Linked DNA regions of Homo sapiens: region 2 is linked to region 1. The links come from fine-mapping of genetic effects on plasma protein levels. A gene starts in region 1. The other region holds a variant in brackets. All regions are shown on one strand. Distances are between the middles of the regions. Region 1 holds the start of MAPK9 (mitogen-activated protein kinase 9). Region 2 overlaps GFPT2 (glutamine-fructose-6-phosphate transaminase 2).

Evidence for each region. PIP is the posterior inclusion probability: the model's chance that the variant is causal. Protein levels are from antibody-based Olink assays in UK Biobank. Linkage for the fine-mapping came from a reference panel and not from the study's own genotypes, which makes the PIPs less certain.
Region 2: its variant is fine-mapped to the plasma level of the MAPK9 protein (UK Biobank, PIP 0.90).

Annotation. Positions count from the first base shown.
Region 1 is chr5:180,288,502-180,298,578 of GRCh38, forward strand. MAPK9 (mitogen-activated protein kinase 9) reads right to left here and starts at 3,582. Exons shown (of 12, transcript NM_002752.5): 1 at 3,347-3,582. It overlaps LOC124901151 (a long non-coding RNA gene), which reads left to right and starts at 3,731. Exons shown (of 2, transcript XR_007059085.1): 1 at 3,731-3,799; 2 at 6,470-6,752. RefSeq lists silencers at 3,098-3,287, 3,418-3,787, 3,798-4,137 and an enhancer at 4,060-4,702.
Region 2 is chr5:180,302,537-180,312,613 of GRCh38, forward strand. GFPT2 (glutamine-fructose-6-phosphate transaminase 2) reads right to left here. Exons shown (of 19, transcript NM_005110.4): 15 at 9,894-10,008; 16 at 4,640-4,767; 17 at 2,236-2,403; 18 at 1-48. Among named protein-coding and RNA genes, the nearest start is that of MAPK9, 15 kb to the left of the region's middle. RefSeq lists enhancers at 3,375-3,889, 3,890-4,403. The variant T/C (reference allele first, on the strand shown) is at 4,776.

The DNA.
Region 1 (10,077 bases):
TACCTTTAGAGACCTACCGAAGTGTGAAGTATAACTACTGTACACCTCCTGAGCACCCTGAGGTTGTGCCCGTATGTTTTACAGATGAGTGCAATCGCTTCTGCACATCACCCAGATAAGCAGCAGACCCACTGGGAGTCTGACTCAAAGTCCTGATCTTACCCACTGCTCCGAGCTACCCTACCACATTTATTCTCCCATTTAGCTTTGTCTTTACCAAACATTTACTGGGCACCCACTGTGTAATTAGTATCCCAAAAAATAATGAATGAAATGACATGATATTTAGGATTTGCTTGAAAATAATTATGGGTGGTAAGGGTGCAAGTGGATACCATTAGAGATGAAACAAGATTGGTCAGGAGTTAATAACTGTTAAAGCAGGACACTATTCTGTTTATTTTGTATATGTTTGAAAGTTCCCATAATAAAAGTTAAAATAAAAAGAATGATGTTGAAACTGGTTCATACAATCAAGTACAAAGTATCAGGAATTAATTATTCTGAAGGAAAATTATGTAAAAATGGCACCTTCCTAACCAAGTGTGAGGTGTAACTACTGTATGTATGTAGACCAAAAATAGTTGCCCTATTGGCAAATCAATAGTCTCAAGAAGAAAAAAAATCTGGTCTCTGTTTTATCTTATGCCTCATGAAAACAACTGGTTTACTCGCTATTAACTGGTTTGTCTGGTCCTTTTCTTTATCCAGAAAATTAAGAATATTTTATCTTAGACACATTCAAGTATCCCCTCTGTTGTTTATTTACGGGACCAAATAAACAGATTTTAATCTGTGAACAAATTAAAGTCCTGGCACCCTGAAAATTAAATTGCCAGGAAAATCAAAGCTGTCAAAAGAGAAGTCTATGCAAAAATAGTATTGTTTTTAACTCTGCAGGATCCTTTTGAAGAAAAAAAAAAGTTAAATGGAGGAAAACATTAAATAGATTGGTGGTCATTCTTCCAGAACAAGTTAAAAGCCAAAAGAGAATACTCAGAGCTGAGGGACCCAGGAAAGAATCCTTATCTGGGAAGTGATCTGGGTTCGAACTCCACTCACCAGCTGCTTGCTAAGAAACAGACTACTTAGACTCCTGAGCTTCCGTTTCCACAGGGCTCCAGTTACAATCAAATGAGTATCTGGGCTGGCACCTGGGCAAACAGGGCCTGGCTCCCCTGGCCTTAGGCTACCTTTCCTGCTCTCCTCACAGCTCCTCCCTCCCACACAGCCAGTCCTGGAGGATGACGATCCTGCAACCAAGCTGAATGAATCTGTATTTGGCTTGGCTCACAGCATTAAAAAAAAATTTAATTAGCTATTGCCAACATTTAAAAATCAGAACAAATGTGGAGTGCTGCCTTCCTTTTTAGAGACAGGGTCTTGCTCTGTCACCCAGGCTGGAGCACAGTGGTGTGATCATAGCTCACTGCAGGCTCCAAATCCTGGGCTCATGGGATCCTTCCACCTCAGCCTCCCAAGCAGCTAGGACTACAGGTGGATGCCACCACACCTAGCTAATTTCTTAAAATTTTTTGTAGAGACAGATCTCGCTACGTTGCCCAGGCTGGTCTTGAACTCCTGGCCTGAAGTGATCCTCCCACATCAGCCTCCCAAAGTGTCTTGAAATTACTGGCGTGAGCCATGGCACCCAGCCAAATTCCACCTTCTTCTAGAAAACTGCTGGGTAAGGTTCCTGTTCTTTAGGGTCCCCACGACTCTGTGTCCTTACACCTGGCCCTCCAGACTGATTCTCAACTCCACAGTGGCCTACGGTCCTTCCTTGGCCCTGCTCCTTCACACCTCTGTGCCTCTCCCTGCCTAGCAAATTTCTTATCACCCTCAAGGCCCCCCAGCACCACCTGTCACCTCCTCCACATTTCCATGGCATAGCCCCTCCCCTATAGCAAGGGTTGTACAGTCCTGGAACTAAGTGTCTGCATGCCTGCCTTCTCTACTGGGCTCCTGGGCTCTCTCGGGAAAGGGACCCCGTTGCTATCTGCCTTGTGTCCGTAGGGTCTAGCAGAAAGCATGACCTAGATAATGCAGAATTCAGTAAATGTCTCTTGTATGTGTGGAAGAAAGCTACAGCTAAACTATTATAAAAATGTGAGATTTTATATCACAGCTTGTTCCAACAGTTAGCAATTAAAGGGGTCAAGGACACCAAAATGTTTCACAAAATAGAACAAGCTTCCATCTGCTTACAAGTTTCACACGCTAATCAGAAGTCACTAAATGAACAGATAAAGCAGAGACAACAGGCAGGCTGGGCCATTTCTTTGATCATTCATTCATTCATTGAGCTGATACTACTGAATACTTCCTGTGTGCTTTCTAAGCACTGGGGATAAAGCAGTGGACAAATCAGACAGCTACCTGTTTTCACAAAGTTACATCCTAGTCGGGGAGACAGAAAATAAGCAGGCAAATAAATAGAATAGTTTCAAACCAGATGAGAGCTAGGAAGGAAATTTTTTAAATAATGAAATAGCATGACTAAGGGAAGAAAGAGGGTGGTCGAGGAGGGCCTCACCCAAAACGAGACATCTGACCAGAGGAAGGAGCAGAAAGAGCTACTTGTGCCAAGATCACGGAGACAACTCCAAAGACGGGGAAACAGCAAATGCAAAGGTCCTGGGGCAAATGCGGGCTGGCATGTTCAAGGCGGGCGAGATGAGTGGGACGGGGCAGCAGTCTTCTGGGGGAGGGGCGCGGTGGTAAGGGATTCGGGCTGGGTCCCCTCTGGCACTGCTGGACACCGAGTGTGCAATGACAAGGCAAGAGAGGAGTGCGCGGGGAGGCGGGAGGCTGGGCGGGTGGGGAGGGGGTTCCTACACCACTCACACCAGCACGGGCCAGCACCCTGCCCAGTCTTCCACAGATGCACACCGGGGTCCTGCCCAGGCGTCTGCATACATTCACACAGCCTGACAACAACCCTGTCCAGAAGAGACATTTCCCCACCTTCCCGAAGGCAAAACCGCGGCAGAGCGAGGGTCAGTGCCTTGGCCAAGGTCGCGGGGACGCGACCCCGGGCCCCTGGGCACCCGGCGCAGGAGTGCAGCTGTCTGCCCCACCTCCGGGAGGGATGGCGCCCGCAGACCCCACGGGCAGGTCGGCCGGGCCAGGCCGGTGAGCAGGCCCGCAGCCCGGGGCTGCTGACAGCCGGGCGGAAGGGGGCGCCTGCGGCATCCCCCAGCACAGGGGCGACGGCTGCGGCTGCCAGGGCCCCGCAGCCCCCGGCCCGCCCCGAAGCCCCCGGCCGCGCGGTTCCCTCACCGCCCCTCCCCGCGGGCCCGGCCCGAGCAGCCGCCGCCAGGCCTAGCCCGCCCGCCGGGCTCACCTCGCCTCCCCGCCGCCGCGCCACGGGGAGAGGGCGGGCGGGCGGACTGGCGGCGCTGCGTGCTAGTCACTCCTGGCTCCGCGGCCCCGGCTCCGCCGCCGGCCCGCCCCGCTCCGCTCCGCCCCGCCGCCGCCGCCGCCGCCGCCGCCGCAGTGGGTGTGAGGGGCGCCGGGGCGCTGCGACCCTTCCGGTCCCGCTCCCTTCTCCGCCGCTGCCGCCGCCGCGGCGCCCGGTCTGACAGACCCTCGCGCCGACCAATCAGCGCGCGGAGAGCGGAGCAGGCGCGGCCAATGGCGCCTGGGGGGCGGGCCGATGGAGGGTGGCGCGGGCGGGGTCGGGGGCCGGGTCGGGCGCCCGAGGTCCTGGGCCGGGGTTCCGCGGGTTCTTCGCCCCCGGGCCTTTCAGTGGCGCGGGCCGAGTGGCCATGGCGCTCGGGTGCGCGCAGTGCACGCGGTGAGCTGGAGACGCAGGCATTGCGCGGCCCACCGGCTGAGCCCGCTCTCCCTGCGAGGGGGGCGCAGCTCGGTGGAGAGGGTGGCCCGGAGGACCGGGAACCGGGCTGGAGGCGCGCGGGGCTCACACCGCGGGGTCCGCGGGGAGCCGGGCCTCGGGCTGCAGGTGCAGGCTTGTGGCGGTGAGGCGACTGGAGCGGCACGGGAGCCCGCCCGTTTCGGGGAGAGCCCGGGGCGATCGCGGGGGGAGGCCGGCCTGGCGTCCGGGAGCCCGGCGTGCTAGGGCCCGGTAGGCGGGGCGGGCCTCGCACTCGGTTGCTCGCTGCGGCGCCGGAGGAACGGGTCTATGGGGGTGTGGGTGAGGCCAGAAGCCGGGTCGAAGAGGGGGAGGGGGTGCGAAGAGATGGCGGTGTGTAGACAGGTGACCCGGTGGGTCGGTGACGCAGGAGGAGACTGCGCTTGGTGGCGGGATCACTTAGTTGACAACATCTAAAAATTAGGAGGTGCGGCAGGGCGCGGTGGCTCACGCCTGTAATCCTAGAACTTTGGGAGGTCGTGGCGGGTGGACTACCTGAGGTGAGGAGTTCGAGACCAGCCTGGCTAACCTGGTGAAACCCCGTCTCTATTAAAAATACGAAGCAATGAGCTGGGCGTGGTGGCGGGCGCCTGTAATCCCAGCTACTCGGGAGGCTGAGGCAGGAGAATCACTTAAACCTGGGAGGCGGAGGTTGCAGTGAGCCGGGATTGCGCCATTGCACTCCAGCCTGGGTGACAGAGTGAGACTCTCTCAAAAAAAAAAAAAAAAAAAAAAAAAAAAAAAAAAAAAAAAAGGGAGGTGCTCAGTCAAGCCTCTGAGAGGAGTGGGGGGCGGGGCGAGGAGTCTCTTGCTCAGAGCCCCCTAGGGACTGGGACCCGTTGACTCTGAGCTGCTTTTGAGGCTGGATCAGGTACCAGCGGCCTGGGGGTCGTACAGGATGGGAGAGGCCGGGGCTTGGGATGTTGCCAGATCTACGTTGAAAAGTGAAGCAGGAAGAGAGGCACTGAGGCTGGGCACATGGGGAAAACCGTGGAGAGCCGGCCTTTGGGGACTAGAAGAGTGGGAACAATGGTTGACAAATGGTGAGTGTGGTGTAGAACAGCAGTAACACAATACCAGGATCCACAGAGTGGCCAGGGCCAGAGTGGGGAGAAGGAACAGGACTCTGCAGATGGGGAGGGTAAGGGGCTGGGTGGCGTGAAGGGTGGTTGCAGAATTTGGGGAGGGCAGCTAGCCTGTGACCCAGGTTCCAAGGGCACTGAGGTCTGGGCCAGGCCGCTTGGAGGCACCAGAGCCTCAGAGGAGGGGTGGGGTAGAGGAACGGATCCAGCATGGTGTCCCCCTTGGCCACCAGAGGGAGTTTTCTAAATTTGAGCATGGCTCATCGCTGCTTGAAATTCTACGTCACAGTGTGGCCTGCATTGAGGAGGGCCCACACCTGTCGCTACCTCAGACTCACCTGCCACCTGCCTCAAGTGCATGAGAGAGAACAGGAAACCAGAAATTGTCAGGATCGAGGATTATGGGAAAAGAGTAAAAGCCTAGCTGTCAGATCTGAGGTTCCACCAAGGAGCACTGATGGGTGCTTCTCATTAGGAAGGCGGTGCGGTGGCTCACACCTGTAATCCCAGTACTTTGGGACGCCGAGGTGAGTGGATCACCTGAGGCCAGGAGTTCGAGACCAGCCTGGCCAACATGGTGAAACGTCATCTCTATTAGAAATACAAACATTAGCTGGGCGTGGTGATGGGTGCTTGTAATTCCAGCTATTCAGGAAACCAAGGCAGGAGAATAACTTGAATCCACGAGGCAGAGGTTGCAGTGAGCCGAGATTGCTCCACTGCACTCCAGCCTGGGCAACAGAGCAAAAACTGCATCTCAAAAAAATAAAAACAAAAAAACAGAGGGGACACCAGTTCCCAGCACTCCAGGCCTAACTTCATAGCACTCACATCATGTCAAGTGAGTAACCAAAAATCAGTGTACATATGTACACAGCTATACATATCTCACACTAAGTTTTCTGTAAGAGTTCTTTTTATTGCAGAGACACTGCTTTTTTTCTGGTTTATGAAATACAGTGAACATTTATGGACACAAAGCTGAGGTGACAGGGTGGGGAGGGGGGCCTTGGAACAGCACCAAGAATCCTGGTTGAACCCTCCAAGTGAAAAGATCCTGCCACGACATACGTGAACCAGGTGTGACACGTGAGCACGTCTCACCTGATCCGGCCTATGGTGGGGAGAAGCAATTGAGGAAGGCCTTCTGGGCAGGAGGAAGTTGTTGCTGAGGCTGCCGAGCAGGATGTGTTGGGCCTGTGACTTAGGCAGAAAGGGCGCTCAGGCCCACATGCTCAGATGTGAGGACCTGCTTGCTGTGTTCAGGGAGCCACAAGTCACCTGGTCTTAGGGAAAGGTGAGGGGACTGGAGAGTTCTGAGGACCTTGAGGTAGATTGGCACTGCCAGGCATGTAGGCTGGCTTTAGCTCACTGATACGCCTTGTTCAGCCCAGAGAGGTTTTCTTTTTTTAATTGATTAGTTGATTTAAGAAACATTTAGATTTGGGATGAGCTGTTTTGGATGTTTATCCTCAATGAAACTCATGTTCAAACTTAATCTCCAATGTGGCAGTACTGAGAGGTGGGGCCTCTAAGCGTGGTTGGGATTAACCTGTCGATGGATTCATGGATTAAAGGGTTATCACCGGAGTGGGACTGGTGACTTCATTAGAAGAGGAAGGAAGACCTGAGCTGGCCTGTGAATATGCTCCGCCCCCTGGCCATGTGACACCTGCGCCACCCTCAGGACTCTGCAGAGTCCCCAGCAGCAAGAAGGCCCTCACCAGGTGCAGCCCCTCAACCTTGGACTTCTCAGCCCCCAGGGCTGTAACAAATAAATTCTTTTTTAAAGTAAATTACCCAGTTTCAGGTATTCTGTTATAAGCAACAGAATAAGAAACAGACTAAGACAAGAGCACAGCGGGGTGGAGGAGCTAGGGGTGCCTGGGGCATTGGGGACCTGTCCGGAGGCCAGCTGTGTATGCAGCCACAGTGCCAACGGGTTTCTGTGATCCTGATATCCCCCACCCTTGACTGGCCTGGATTCCAATCCGACTCTTGTCAGCTGTGCTCCTCTGGGCAAGGGATTCACTTCTGTCTGCCTTGGTTCTGTAGGAAGTGGCATGGAGAAGGACAGAAGCAGGAAGAGCTGGGTGCGGCCCATGCAGCAGGGATGGTGTAGGTCCTTATGCTGACTGCCTCTGTCCCCTCAACACTTTGCCTGCCCTCCCCCCATTGCACTAACCCACATCTTCCCTTCTCCCCTACAAGGACCCAGAGATGTGCTAGAGGGTGTAAGTCGGGGCTGTCCCAGCTGTGTGTTGTAGAAAACTAAACTGCACTTAAACCAATGGGGACGTTTACTGGGAGGTGCCTGTAACATCATACCCAGGGGAGGTAGGGGCAGAGCTGGTCTGGAAACTCTAGGGCCATGGAGGCCACTGCAGGCCCAAATGGAGTTTGAAAACCCACAACAATGGACTCTGATGGTCCCCCAGACAGGGCTTCCATTCTGGAACTAGTCAGCCATGCTGGGCAGACAGGCTCATGTGAGGACATGGCAGGGAAGGGCAGAATTGGGAAAGGCAGAAGTCTGGAAGTTTCTTCCATGGTGATGATTAGAATGAGGGCATCTGAGCTGGGGCGCAGCTGAGGGTGTGGCACTGTATGGAAACAGGGTTATTTGGGGGCTGTATAACTGAATGCTGAACCCAGTGGCCCTTAGCCCTCCTCCTCCGGGAATCCCCCAGAGCACCAGCAGCTGGGACTGTCCTCAGGCAGGGAGCCAGCAAGCTGTTCTCCAGAAGTCTGACCAGCCCTGAAGGGAAGACCTGAGGTATGAACATTATGACACCCCCACCCCCACCAGATTTCCCAGCAGTGAATCCTGCATCAACCAGCCCTACCATGCCTTAGACCTTCCAGTCAGCCCCCCTTGAATCTGAACAGACAGCTCCATGTCATATGGCTAAGAAAAGTAAGACAAAAAACTGCATCTTGAAAGAAACAGACTCTGTGGAGAAGGAAAATTCAAAAAATAAAAATAAAACTACTGCTAGCTTCAGAGAGAATGAAAAAATATTGCATCCTTCAAACAAGAACCAGCCATTTAAAAATTATGCAGCACAGGTGTATGCAACATGGCCTTGCTCTGTCAGCTGAGATGGCCTAGAAGCAATGACATCTCAGCAGTGGCTGACACACCCAGAGCCCAGATCTTGTTCTCTAATGTCATTCGCCATAAAAGGAACCAGGGATCCCTGGAGAAATGGTTGATTCTAGGGCTGGGACAGGGGATGGACAAGACGAGCCTGGAGAATATTGTTGTGCAGGTAAGGAAGTACTTACAACACACACACACACACACACACACACACAAGGAAGTACAACACACACGTAAGAAAGTACACACACGGAAGTACTTACCCCCCCCCCCACACACACACGGAAGTACTTACCACACACACACACACACACACACACAAGGAAGTACAACACACACGTAAGGAAGTACACACACGGAAGTACCCCCCCACACACACACACGGAAGTACTTACCACACACACACACACACACACACACACAGATGGGGCTATGTCAAAGAGACACAAGAGCCAACTGAAAGAGCCCCCAGTGGCTGTTGCTGGAACCATTGGAACAACAAACTAACATAGTATTGGGCATGACTCAAAATATAAAATAAATATCTATGGTTCATTCTAATAGAAATAATAAATGGGGAAGAATAGAAAAGTTTGTGGCCGGGCACAGTGGCTCGCACCTGTAATCCCAGCACTTTCGGAGGGCGAGGTGGGCGGATCACGAGGTCAGGAGATCGAGGCCATCCTGGCTAACACGGTGAAACCCCATCTCTACTAAAAATACCAAAAAAAATTAGCCGGGTGTGGTGGCGGGCACCTATAGTCCCAGCTACTCAGGAGGCTGAGGCAGGAGAATGGTGTGAACCCGGGAGGTGGAGCTTGCAGTGAGCCGAGATCACGCCACTGCATTCCAGCCTGGTGACGAAGTGAGACTCTATCTCAAAAAAAAAAAAAAAAAAATATATATATATATATATATAGTCAGAGCAAAAAAAAACCCTCGAAAAATTAAATCATGTTGGCAGAAATGAAAAATCTTAGTAGCAGGTTGGGAGATAAAATTGAAATCTCTCAGTAGGGCAAAAAGACAACAAATGAATGATAAAAAAGATAAGAAATTAGAGGCCAGTCCAGCAGCTTCACCCTGGGAATAATAGACACTCCAGAGACAGAGAAACAGAGAAATCCACAACAAAATAATTCAAGAAAATTTCCTAGTCTGAAAGGCAAAAGTTACCAGATGCAATCAACCCTAAATGAAATGTGCTCTAGGCAACTTGTGGTATTTCAGAACACAGGAAACAAAAAAGAGACCAAAAGGTCACCTACAAAGACATCAGACTTTGGACTCAATAGCAGCACTGGGAACAAGACGATGAAGCACTACCTTTAAAATTCTGCAGGAACACCTTTTTCTGACCTAGAATTGTGTGTTTAGCTAAACCCTCTATCAAGTATAAATAAAAAAATCATTTCCACACCTGCAGATTCTCAAAAAACTTGCCTTCTGTTGTGGCCTGAATATTTGTGTTTCCCCAAATTCATATGTTGCAATCCTAACCCCTGCCACATGTGATGTTATTAGGAGGTGAGGCCTTTGGGAGGTGATGAGTGTGAGGGTGGAGCCCTTATGAATGGGATTAGTACACTTATCAAAGAGGCTCCAGAGAACTCCCTTGTCCCTTCTGCCATGTGAGGACACAGCAAGAAGGCTGCTCTGTACAAACCAGGAAATGGGCCCTCACCAAGACTCCACATCTGCCGGTGCCTTGATCTTGGACTTCCCACTGTTGAGAACTGTGAGAAAGAAATGTGGGATTTTTATAAGGCACCAGGGCTGTTACAGCAGGCTGAACTGACTTAAGACACCTCTCAAGCACCTTTTCTCAAGAATGGGCTTCACCAGAACAAAAAAGGAAACTCAGAAGAAGGAAGACACAGATACAGAAAACAGGAGCCCAGGCCGGTATGGCAGCTCACGCCTGTAATCCCAGCGCTTTGGGAGGCCGAGGCAGGTGGATCACGAGGTCAAGAGATCGAGACCATCCTGGCCAACATGGTGAAACCTTGTCTCTACTA
Region 2 (10,077 bases), 14 kb after region 1:
CTTGGAACTTTCAGTATCGTCCTTGGAGCACAGTATAATGGGGCGACCCTAGAGCAGAGAAATAGCATCATAAAATAGACCCTCTCTGAAAGAAGCTATCCCTGATGCATACAGAGTATCTGGAAGCTACATTACTGTGATGAGAACAGTCCTCTTTTGCATTTGCTGGAGTCATGGGTGAGGTGGTATGTGTGGGACACAAATGCTTGGAAAGGATAAAGTGTCTGATGCTTTTTGGGGGTTTCTTCCCCTTCCCTGGTAAGGAGATTGCCATCCTGCTGCATCATTTGGCACCCATTTGTGCCTTGCCGAGAGCGGGGCAGACTCACTCCTAACTCTAGCGGGGCTCATAGTCTAGTGGTAGAAAACAAAAACCTAGACAAGCAAACCAAGAAATAAAGATGAATTCCAGGCCGGGCGTGGTGGCTCACGCCTGTAATCCCAACACTTTGGGAGGCTGAGGCGGGTGGATCACGAGGTCAGGAGATCGAGACCATCCTGGCTAACATGGTGAAACCCTGTCTCTACTAAAAAATACAAAAAATTAGCCGGGTGTGGTGGCGGGGGCCTGTAGTCCCAGCTACTGGGGAGGCTGAGGCAGGAGAATGGCGTGAACCTGGGAGGCGGAGCTTGCAGTGAGCCGAGATGGCGCCACTGCACTCCAGCCTGGGCGACAGAGCCAGACTCCGTCACAAAAAAAAAAAAAAAATGAATTCCAAAGAAATGCCACCAAGGCTAGAAAACAGGATAATGTCATTGGGAGACTGGTGAGGTCTCCAAAGCTCTCTCAAAAACAGGAGACATCTGGACTGAACCCTAAATGATGAGGGGACAACCCTCGGCGGAGCATTCTGTGGGAAGGGCATTCCAGACAGCAGGAGCGGCCAGCGCAAAGGCCCGGAGGCGGGCGCGGGCGCAATGAGAGTGGGACGCAGAAGGAAAGCTGGAGTGCCTGGAACTCACTGAAACAGGAGGAAAGGGCCAGATAACGCAGGACTGTGGGTCTCTGTGGCTTGACAGGCAGGTATGGGAGGGTTTTAAGTGGGGAAATGATGCCATTGTGTTTTATACCCTCACTCTGACCTCTGTGCTGAGCCAGGTGGCAACATCTGGATGGGGCACCTCATTGGATTTCACCTCCCCGAAACTTCATGAACTCTGCCCTCCTACCTCAGGGCAGCTGCTGTGTACAAAGCATTTGGTTGGTCTTTGTGGCCGGTTCCAGGAAGGGAGCTCCTGGCTTCTGGACTTTCCCATGTGACAAAAGCATCTTTGTTATTTATGGGAGGTCCCTTGGACTATACCTAACTTTATGCTAAGGTGACGACTCGTGGTGGGCCTGTAGATAGTTCCAGGATGGCGTCTGGCCCTGCTAGAAAGGCCAGCCACATGATTAGAAGGTTGGGGCTTTGAGACATGAGCCTGTCAGTCTGACCTCCCAACCTCCAAGGACAAAAGTGGGGCTGGCGACTGAGTTTGATCACATGGCCAATGGTTCACTCCATCCTGCCTACTTAATAAAACCACAATACAAACTCTGGACACTGGAGCTAGCAGCTCAGGGGAGCTCCCGGGCGACACACAGTGACGTGCTGGGAGGGTGACACATCCTGAGGACACAAGCTTCACATCTGGGGCCCTCAAACTAGGGGTCTCTTCTTTTGGGTTGGCTGTGATTTATATCTTTTATAATAAAACTGTAATCATATAGTCATCTCCTGAGTTCTATGGGTCGTTCTAGAAAATTACTGAACTTCAGGGGAGAGTGGGAATCCTTGGATTCATAGTCAGTTGCTCAGATGTGTGGGTGGACCCCTGGCTTGCAACAGGTGCCTGAATCGAGGGCAGTCTTATGGAAAGCTGTGCCCCTGCCCTATGAGACCTGACCTAACTCCAGGTAGTTCCCATCGGAGCTGCTTGGCCGCAGAACCTGGGGAAACCCTGCCCCAGGGATGTCCACCAGGAGTACCTCCCCTGAGCTCCAGGCTAGGATCTGGTGCTGCTCACAGCAGTGTGGGTCCCTGGGCCCCACCAAAGAGCTGTGTGGGACAGCTGCGGGCTGACCAGCTCCTTTCCAAGTGTGTGCACTCCCCACAGGCGGCCCGGGGGAGGGTGTGTGGTCACAGCCACTCACTGGCCAGACCATCCATCACTGGTACTGGCAGACAGTGGTGAGGTGGGCATGCATGGGGAAAAGCAGGAGAGAGCTGGCCCAGTCCAGTGGAGAGCCCTCACCTGGCGGGCCGTGACTTGCTGCAGGGCGTTCTGGCATTTGGCGAAGCAAGGATCCTTCATAATGACCATGATGACGGGCATCTGCTTGTCAATCAGTGCCAGGGGCCCGTGCTTCAGCTCCCCAGCCAGGATGCCTTCTGAGTGCATGTAGGTTATCTCTTTAATTTTCTGGAAACAGGAGGTGAGATCAGAGTCACACTGGGCAGATGGGGCTGGAGCAGATCAGCCAGAGGGGAAGAAGGGGAACCAGGGGAAGGATGACTCTGGAAGGCAGAGAGCCAAGGGTTGCAAGGCAGACAGATGCCTGGAGTGCTTGACAGCACTGAGGACACCCAGCAAGGGCCTGGGGAGAGGCCTGGCTACCATCCAGAGCATGCACCAGCCCGGGACACAACCTCTGTGTCCCCACACCAGCCCCGGGCACTGCTGTTGTCTCTCTCCAGTCCCACGCACAGCCACCCCTTAGGACAAACAAGTCGGAGTCAGCCTAGCTCACCCCCTGCTCCTCCCTAGCCAGCCACGTGTATAACGACAGCATCGTATTCAGCTTAGCTACACCTTCAGTTAATTATCTGATTAAGCATTTGCCCATTAATAACTTCTAAAGAGTGGTTCCAAGCAAAATCACACAAACTGGGGTGTTATTTGAATTAATTTTTTTCCTGTGTTCAGGTAGATCCATCTCTATTCAGTTACCACAAATCCACGTCATTGAAATGGTGAGACAGTCAAATAAATCATCTCTCGACTCCCCGCTAGCACTGCTGATTTAGGTCAGGGCCACACTGTAAGGAGTGCGGCTCCAGTCTGGAGGCGCAGACAGCTGCAGTGCCGGCCTCCCAGTGACCAGAGGACCATGGGCTCGTGCCAGCAGCCACCTAAACGCTTCTTCCTTCAGCAGACTCATGCGGAGGCATAGCTGCAATGTGCATCTCCCGCCAGCACGTTCAGCCACCGCAGCTCAGCCCCCACCCATGACGCAGAGTCATCTGGGGACTGACAGTGCACCCCAGGCCTTGCCTCTACTGCACTCCAAGAAGCAGCACCTGCCTGTTCTTTAACAGGAGTCAGAATCTCCAGGGGGCAGGTGCAGGAGATGGAGCTCAGTGAGGACAGCCCTGCACTCCCCACCAAGACCAAGGAAATCAACTCTGAATGTTTCCGGTAACCACTTGTAACTGGCATTGTCTTTCTTTTTTTTTTCTTTCTTTCTTTTTTTTTTTTTTCGTTGAGATGGGAGTCTCGTTCTGTCTCCCAGGCTGGAGTGCAGTGGCATGATCTTGGCTCACTGCAACCTCCTCCTCTTGGATTCAAGCGATTCTCCTGCCTCAGCCTCCCATGTAGCTGGGATTACAGGCGTGCACCACCACGCCCAGCTAGTTTTTGAATTTTTGGTAGAGATGGGCTTTTACCATGTTGTCCAGGCTGGTCTCGAACTCCTGACCTCAAATGATCTGACTGCCTTGGCCTCCCAAAGTGCTGGGATTACAGGCGTGGACCACTGTGCCAGCCTAGCATTGTCTTTCAAATGGGGGTGGTGGGGAGGAGATGGGAGAGGATGGCAGCCCAGCTGGGCCACGGTTAATGCCCTCGTCTTGGTGGCCAGTGCAGCCTCAGCTGGAGCACTGTCCCCGTCACCTGGGCTGAGCATCTGCTCCGTGCATGGCATGCTGACAGCGAGGAAAGGGCAAGTCCGAGATGCAGGACCCTGCACGGCTCTCTGCCCACCCTCTGGGCAGCCCTGTGGCCCTGGCACCCTGTCCCTGCCCCATCAGCTTTCTCTTTCCTGGCGTGGATCTTTAATGCTGCAGGGGGCAAATGGCCTGTCACCAATTTTTGAAAAAGCAAGGCCTTCGAAGTTAATTCCTGCAGGATCTCAAACTCCCCTTGGAAGTTTGAGGGGTAACAAGGAAACTCTGCGGAGAACCCACCCCTCAATTTTGGTGGAAAAAAGCGAAGGCCCCATGGACTCAGGTCTGATTCGGGTCCCCTACGTCATCTTGAGTGAGATACTTAAGCTTTCAGAGGCTTTGTTTCCTCCTGAATGAGGGTGAATAGCAACCGCCAACCTCTCAGAAGCAGCTCATGAGGTCTGAGTGAGCTGTTCCAAGTGGACCCTGGCAGTGCCTGGACAGCCGGAGGGGCACACCCCAGGCGCCCTGTCCCTTTCTCCTCAGTAGATTGGGAGATCCCTGGGGGCAGGCACCTGCCTCACCCATCTCTGTGTGCCCAGGGCTAGAAACCTGGTGGAGAGCTGGTGCTCAGCGCAGGCTCACAGGACTGGCCAAGGGGTCCTTAGGCCCGGCCCTCCCCAAGCCCAACGCCCTGCCCTCCTTCCCGCTGGCTCCTCAGGGTCTCCTGTGCCTGTCCTCCGTGGGGGTGGGGGCTGGGGGTGGGGGCTCACCAGGGCTCCTTCCAGGCAGGTGGCATAGTTGTAGCCCCGCCCCATCACCAGCAGCGATCTCTGCGTGTAGAGCTCCAGGGCCAAGTCGTGGATCTTCTCCTCCAGAGACAGCACTTCCTTGATCAGCTCTGGGCCA[T/C]GCACGGAGCAGAGGGAGAAAACCAGTCAGGCCGACTTTAAAGCAATATTCATGAAGACAAATGCTGGGGTTTAAGAGGAGCTTTTGAAACCGCATCACTTAGCACACTTTGCTTCCTCGCATTCGTTTCAAACGTAGATTACAGGAAATAACTTGGGCTCCTGGCCAGGATTCTGTTAGGATGGGGATTCGTGTTGTGTGAACACTTTCTTGAGCACCAACAAGGTAGGAAGTACCATTTCTCACTCCGTTTTGCAGGTAAGACAACTGAGGCTCAGAGAGGCAAAAATCACCCACTGGAGACAGAGCTGACACCACCAGTTAACACCCCTCTTTCCTGCTGTGTCTCAAGACAAGGCCCCTGTAAGTGGGACCACCGGTTCTCAAACCCTTTGGTCTCAGGACTCCTTTACACTCTTGAAAATTATTGCAAGTCCCTCAAATTATTGCACATCCCCAAGAGCCTTTGTTTTTGAGTTAAATCTGTCAACATTTACCAGATTAGAAAATAACACTGAGGACCAGGCGTGGTGGCTCACGCCTGTAATCGCCGCACTTTGGGAGGCCGAGGCGGGTGGATCATGAGGTCAGGAGATCGAGACCATCCTGGCTAACATGGTAAAACCCCGTCTCTACTAAAAATACAAAAAATTAGCCGGGCGTGGTTGGGTGCGGTGGCTCACGCCTGTAATCCCAGCACTTTGGAAGGCTGGGGCAGGCGGATCACGAGGTCAGGAGATCGAGACCATCCTGGCTAACATGGTGAGACCTGGTATCTACTAAAAATACAAAAAATTAGCCGGGCATGGTGGCGGGCGCCTGTAGTCCCAGCTACTCGGGAGGCTGAGGCAGGAGAGTGGCGTGAACCTGGGAGGCGGAGCTTGCAGTGAGCTGAGATGGCACCACGGCACTCCAGCCTGGGCAACAGAGCGAGACTCCATCTCGAAAAAAAAAAAAGAAGAAAAAGAAAGAAAGAAACTAACAATGAGAAATTTAAAAATATTCACTTTAAAATAACAACACTAAATCTATTACATTACTTCATTTCCAACAAGAATTAGTGAGAAGAATGGCACTGCTTTTTGTTCTTGCAAATCTTTTTAGTGTCTGCCTTTTTAATAAAAGACTGTTGACTCTAATATCTGCTTTCACATTCAATCTGTGGTGATAAGCTCTTTTGGTTGAAGTATAAAAATAAAATTCAGCCTACAAATACAGATTTGTAGTTGGAAAAGCGAGGAGTATTTAAATTATTTTACAAATAATTGTGAATATTGTTCTTTGACACCACAGTACATCAAACTTGAGAAACAGTAGGTTCTTGAAAGGGTAGGTGCCAATATAGAATCTGAAATCCTATCAATAAACTTTTTCTACTTTGTTAGGTTAAAATTTATTTTTCTGTCTTGTGCTTTTAAATGGATCATTTACAAGTGCATAACTCTGTGACATCGTGAACTGGCCACAAAGGTATGTAAATCTTCTTAAAATGGACACTTTTATTATAAAATGTTCTTTAAAAATCACCTTGTTGAAGTCACCTTGATCTCATCAGAGAAGACTTTTTTTTTTTTTTGAGACAGAGTCTCACTCTGTCACCCAACCTGGGGTGCAGTGGCACGATCTCGGCTCACTGTAACCTCGGCCACCCGGGTTCAAGTGATTCTCCTGCCTCAGCCTCCTGAGTAGCTGGGATTACAGGTGCCTGCCACTGCACCCAGCTAAATTTTTTAAATATTTTTAGTAGAGATGGGGTTTCACCATCTTGGATAGGCTGGTCTTGAACTCCTGACCTCATGATCCACCCACCTCGGCCTCCCAAAGTGCTGGGATTACAGGCATCAGCCACCGTGCCCGGCCCTAGAGAAGTCTTTAAATGTTAGGAACTGGTCAAGCTCATGGTAACAGAGGTGTTTTCTAACACTCAAAAGTTTTGCCTGGGAGCTTAAAGTTTATCATTGGCAACAAATACCATGGGTTGCTTCTACTGATGCGTCAGCTGATTTTTCATTTTGAGAAAATGTCTAACAAACACCAAAATCAGCTTGCTACTCAATGGGATGGCTGCTTCTCTTGAGACAAGCATCACACTTCAGTGTAGAGCAGAAAGGCTTTTTCTCTTTTTCCAGACGGAGTTTTGCTCTTGTTGCCCAGACTGGAGTGCAACGGCGTGATCTCAGCTCATTGCAACCTCTGCTTCCCAGGTTCAAGTGATTCTCCTGACTCAGCCTCCCAAGTAGCTGGGATTAAAGGCGCACACCACCACACCCAGCTATTTTTAGTAGAGATGGGGTTTCACTGCGTTGGTCAGGCTGGTCTCGAACTCCTGACCTCAGGTGATCCGCTCGCCTTGGCCTCCCAAAGTGCTGGGATTACAGGCATGAGCCACCACGCCTGGCCCCAGTAGAAAGGCGCTACGTGTACTCCCCATTTCATCATAAAGGATATTACAAAGAGTTGCAATTTACAGACTAATAATTTTTACCACCTCATCAAGGCCATTCCTTTTTTTTTTTTGAGATGGAGTATCACTCTGTCACCCAGGCTGGAGTGCAGTGGTGCGATCTCGGCTCACTGCAAACTCTGCCTCCCAGGTTCACGCCATTCTTCTGCCTCAGCCCCCCGAGTAGCTGGGACTACAGGTGCCCACCACCACGCCCGGCTAATTTTTTGTATTTTTAGTAGAGACGGGGTTTCACCATGTTAGCCAGGATGGTCTCGATCTCCTGACCTCATGATCTGCCTGCCTCGACCTCCCAAAGTGCTAGGATGACAGGCATGAGCCACCGTGCCCAGCCTTTTCTTTTTGAGATGAAGTCTCGCTCTTGTCGCCCAGGCTGGAGTACAATGGCACAATCTCGGCTCACTGCAATCTCCGCCTCCTGGGTTCAAGCAATTCTCCTGCCTCAGCCTCCCAAGTAGCTGGGATTACAGGCACCCACTAGCACGCCCAGCTAATTTTTGTATTTTTAGTAGAGATGGGGTTTCACCATGTTGGCCAGGCTGGTCTCGAACTCCTGACCTCAGGCGATCTGCCCACCTCGGCCTCCCAAAGTACTGAGATTACAGGCGTGAGCCACTGCGCCTCACCATCAAGGCCATTCTTTTTTGTTTTTTGAGATGGAGTCTCACTCTGTTGCCCAGGCTGGAGTGCAGTGGCAGAATCTTGGCTCACTGCAACCTCTGCCTCCTGGGTTCAAGTGATTTTCCTGCCTCAGCCTCCCGAGTAGCTGGGATTACAGGCACCTGCCACCACATCCAGCTGCTTTTTGTGTTTTTAGTAGAGATGGGGTTTCACCATGTTGACCAGGATGGTCTCGAACTCCTGACCGCAGGTGATCCGCCCACTTCAGCCTCCCAAAGTGCTGGGATTACAGGCGTGAGCCACCGCGCCCGGCCATCAAGGCCATTCTTAAGGGAAACTGGGTGTGTGCTGGTGAAGGACACAATGACCAGTAGGCCTTCTAGTGTGCTGGGTGCCGGGCACAGCCACCACTGCCTTTGCAAATGTGGACACAGGCAAAAAAAAAAAAAAAAAAAAAAAAAAAAAAAATTTTTAGTATAAAGAATGTATTACTATGTGAACAATTTTGTTCAAAGGGCTTTGCAGACACCCAGGACCTGTGGACCACATCTGGAGAACCACTGACTTAGACGTCAGAATTGGGTCCTGTTTTGCATGGTTATGACCTGGCTTAAAGGAAGAATGCTTTTCTCAGAAATAAACTTTCAGCAAGCTGTCTCGGCCAGTGTCAGGCCCCGAGGGCCTGGAATTGACCATTCTCTATGATGGCCCTTCCCCAACTGCCTGCTCTGGGGTTTGGCCCTGGCTCCCAGGGAAGCTCCAGCGTCCACTCTGTCTCTGGGAGGGCACTCCCCAGAAGCCCCATGATGTCCTGTCCGCAGTGAGCGTTCCATGCCAGCCTGGGGCGAGGCTCGATTCATCTCCGCCTCTCAGGCCTGCACAGAAGTCTCTCTCCTACTCTGGCATGTGAGTGACTGAAGGAGGTGAGCTGCTGCTTATCTTGGCAGGCCAGGGATAGCACATGGGACAGGGCACGGCACTGGTTCTTAATATATGTGGTGGATGAATGAAGAAAGGGGAGGCCACGGTCCCCAAGGAGGTCATGATTTAGTGCAACAGATATTGTATCTCACCAGCTACGACAGCTGCGACTGCTGCTGCCCAGCAAACGGGGAAAGTGTGGTGGGGCTGCCAAGGAGCGCCTGGCATAGGAAGGACCTGGGGCCATTTGCTCTTTCTCGAGTACTTACTGAGCACCTACTGTATGCCTGCCCTGTGCTGGACACCAGCTGTCCAGTGGCAGCTCTGGCAGACAGAGCTGTGTGTTCACGGAGCCGACATGTTAGTTGGGGGAGACAGGCCAGTCAACAGGTGAACAGGGAATTTCAGGTCATGAGGTGTGTTATGAAAAAAATAAACAGGCTAATGTTTCACAGAGTGCTGGCGTCGGGGCCTCTGTGAGCATGGCCAGGGAGGGTCTCAGGAGGTGACATTTGAGCTGAGGTTTGGGAGATGAGAAGCTGTCGGCTGTATGCAGAGCAGGAAGAAGATGGTTCAGCAGAGTAAAGAGCCAGTGCGAAGGCCCTGCGGTGAGAAAGCACTGAGCACTGCTGAGGACCAGGGAGGCAGGGAGGCTGAGGACCAGGGAGGCAGGGAGGTGGGGAGGCTGAGGGGCAGGGAGGCAGGGAGGCGGGGAGGTGGGGAGGCTGAGGGGCAGGGAGGCAGGGAGGCGGGGAGGCTGAGGACCAGGGAGGCAGGGAGGCTGAGGACCAGGGAGGCAGGGAGGCGGGGAGGCTGAGGACCAGGGAGGCAGGGAGGCTGAGGACCAGGGAGGCAGGGAGGCTGAGGACCAGGGAGGCGGGGAGGCAGGGAGGCAGGGAGGCAGGGAGGCAGCGCGGCAGCGCAGGGGGAGGTGGGGGCCGAGCAGGATGAGGTCAGAGGCAGCAAGGCCTCCAGGAGGGAGTTGGGGAAGCTAGGAAGTTTTAGGAGGAAGAAGAAATGAACAACATCCTGTACAGGTGAGAGTCAACAGAGAATGGCCAGCAACAGTCCACTAGATCTGAAAACATGGAAAGCTGAATTCTAGAACATACCAGGTAAAGATCTCAAGCCACGGATGATCTCTTGCCTCCTGTTTTGTAGTGAAATTCGGTCTTCAGACATCATCAAACCAAACATCACCAGAGAGATGAACTGACTGGTATAAGCCTGTGCACAAAGAAGGAGGTGGCAGGGACCTTATTTTCACTTTTTAAATCAACTTTTATTTTTGAGACA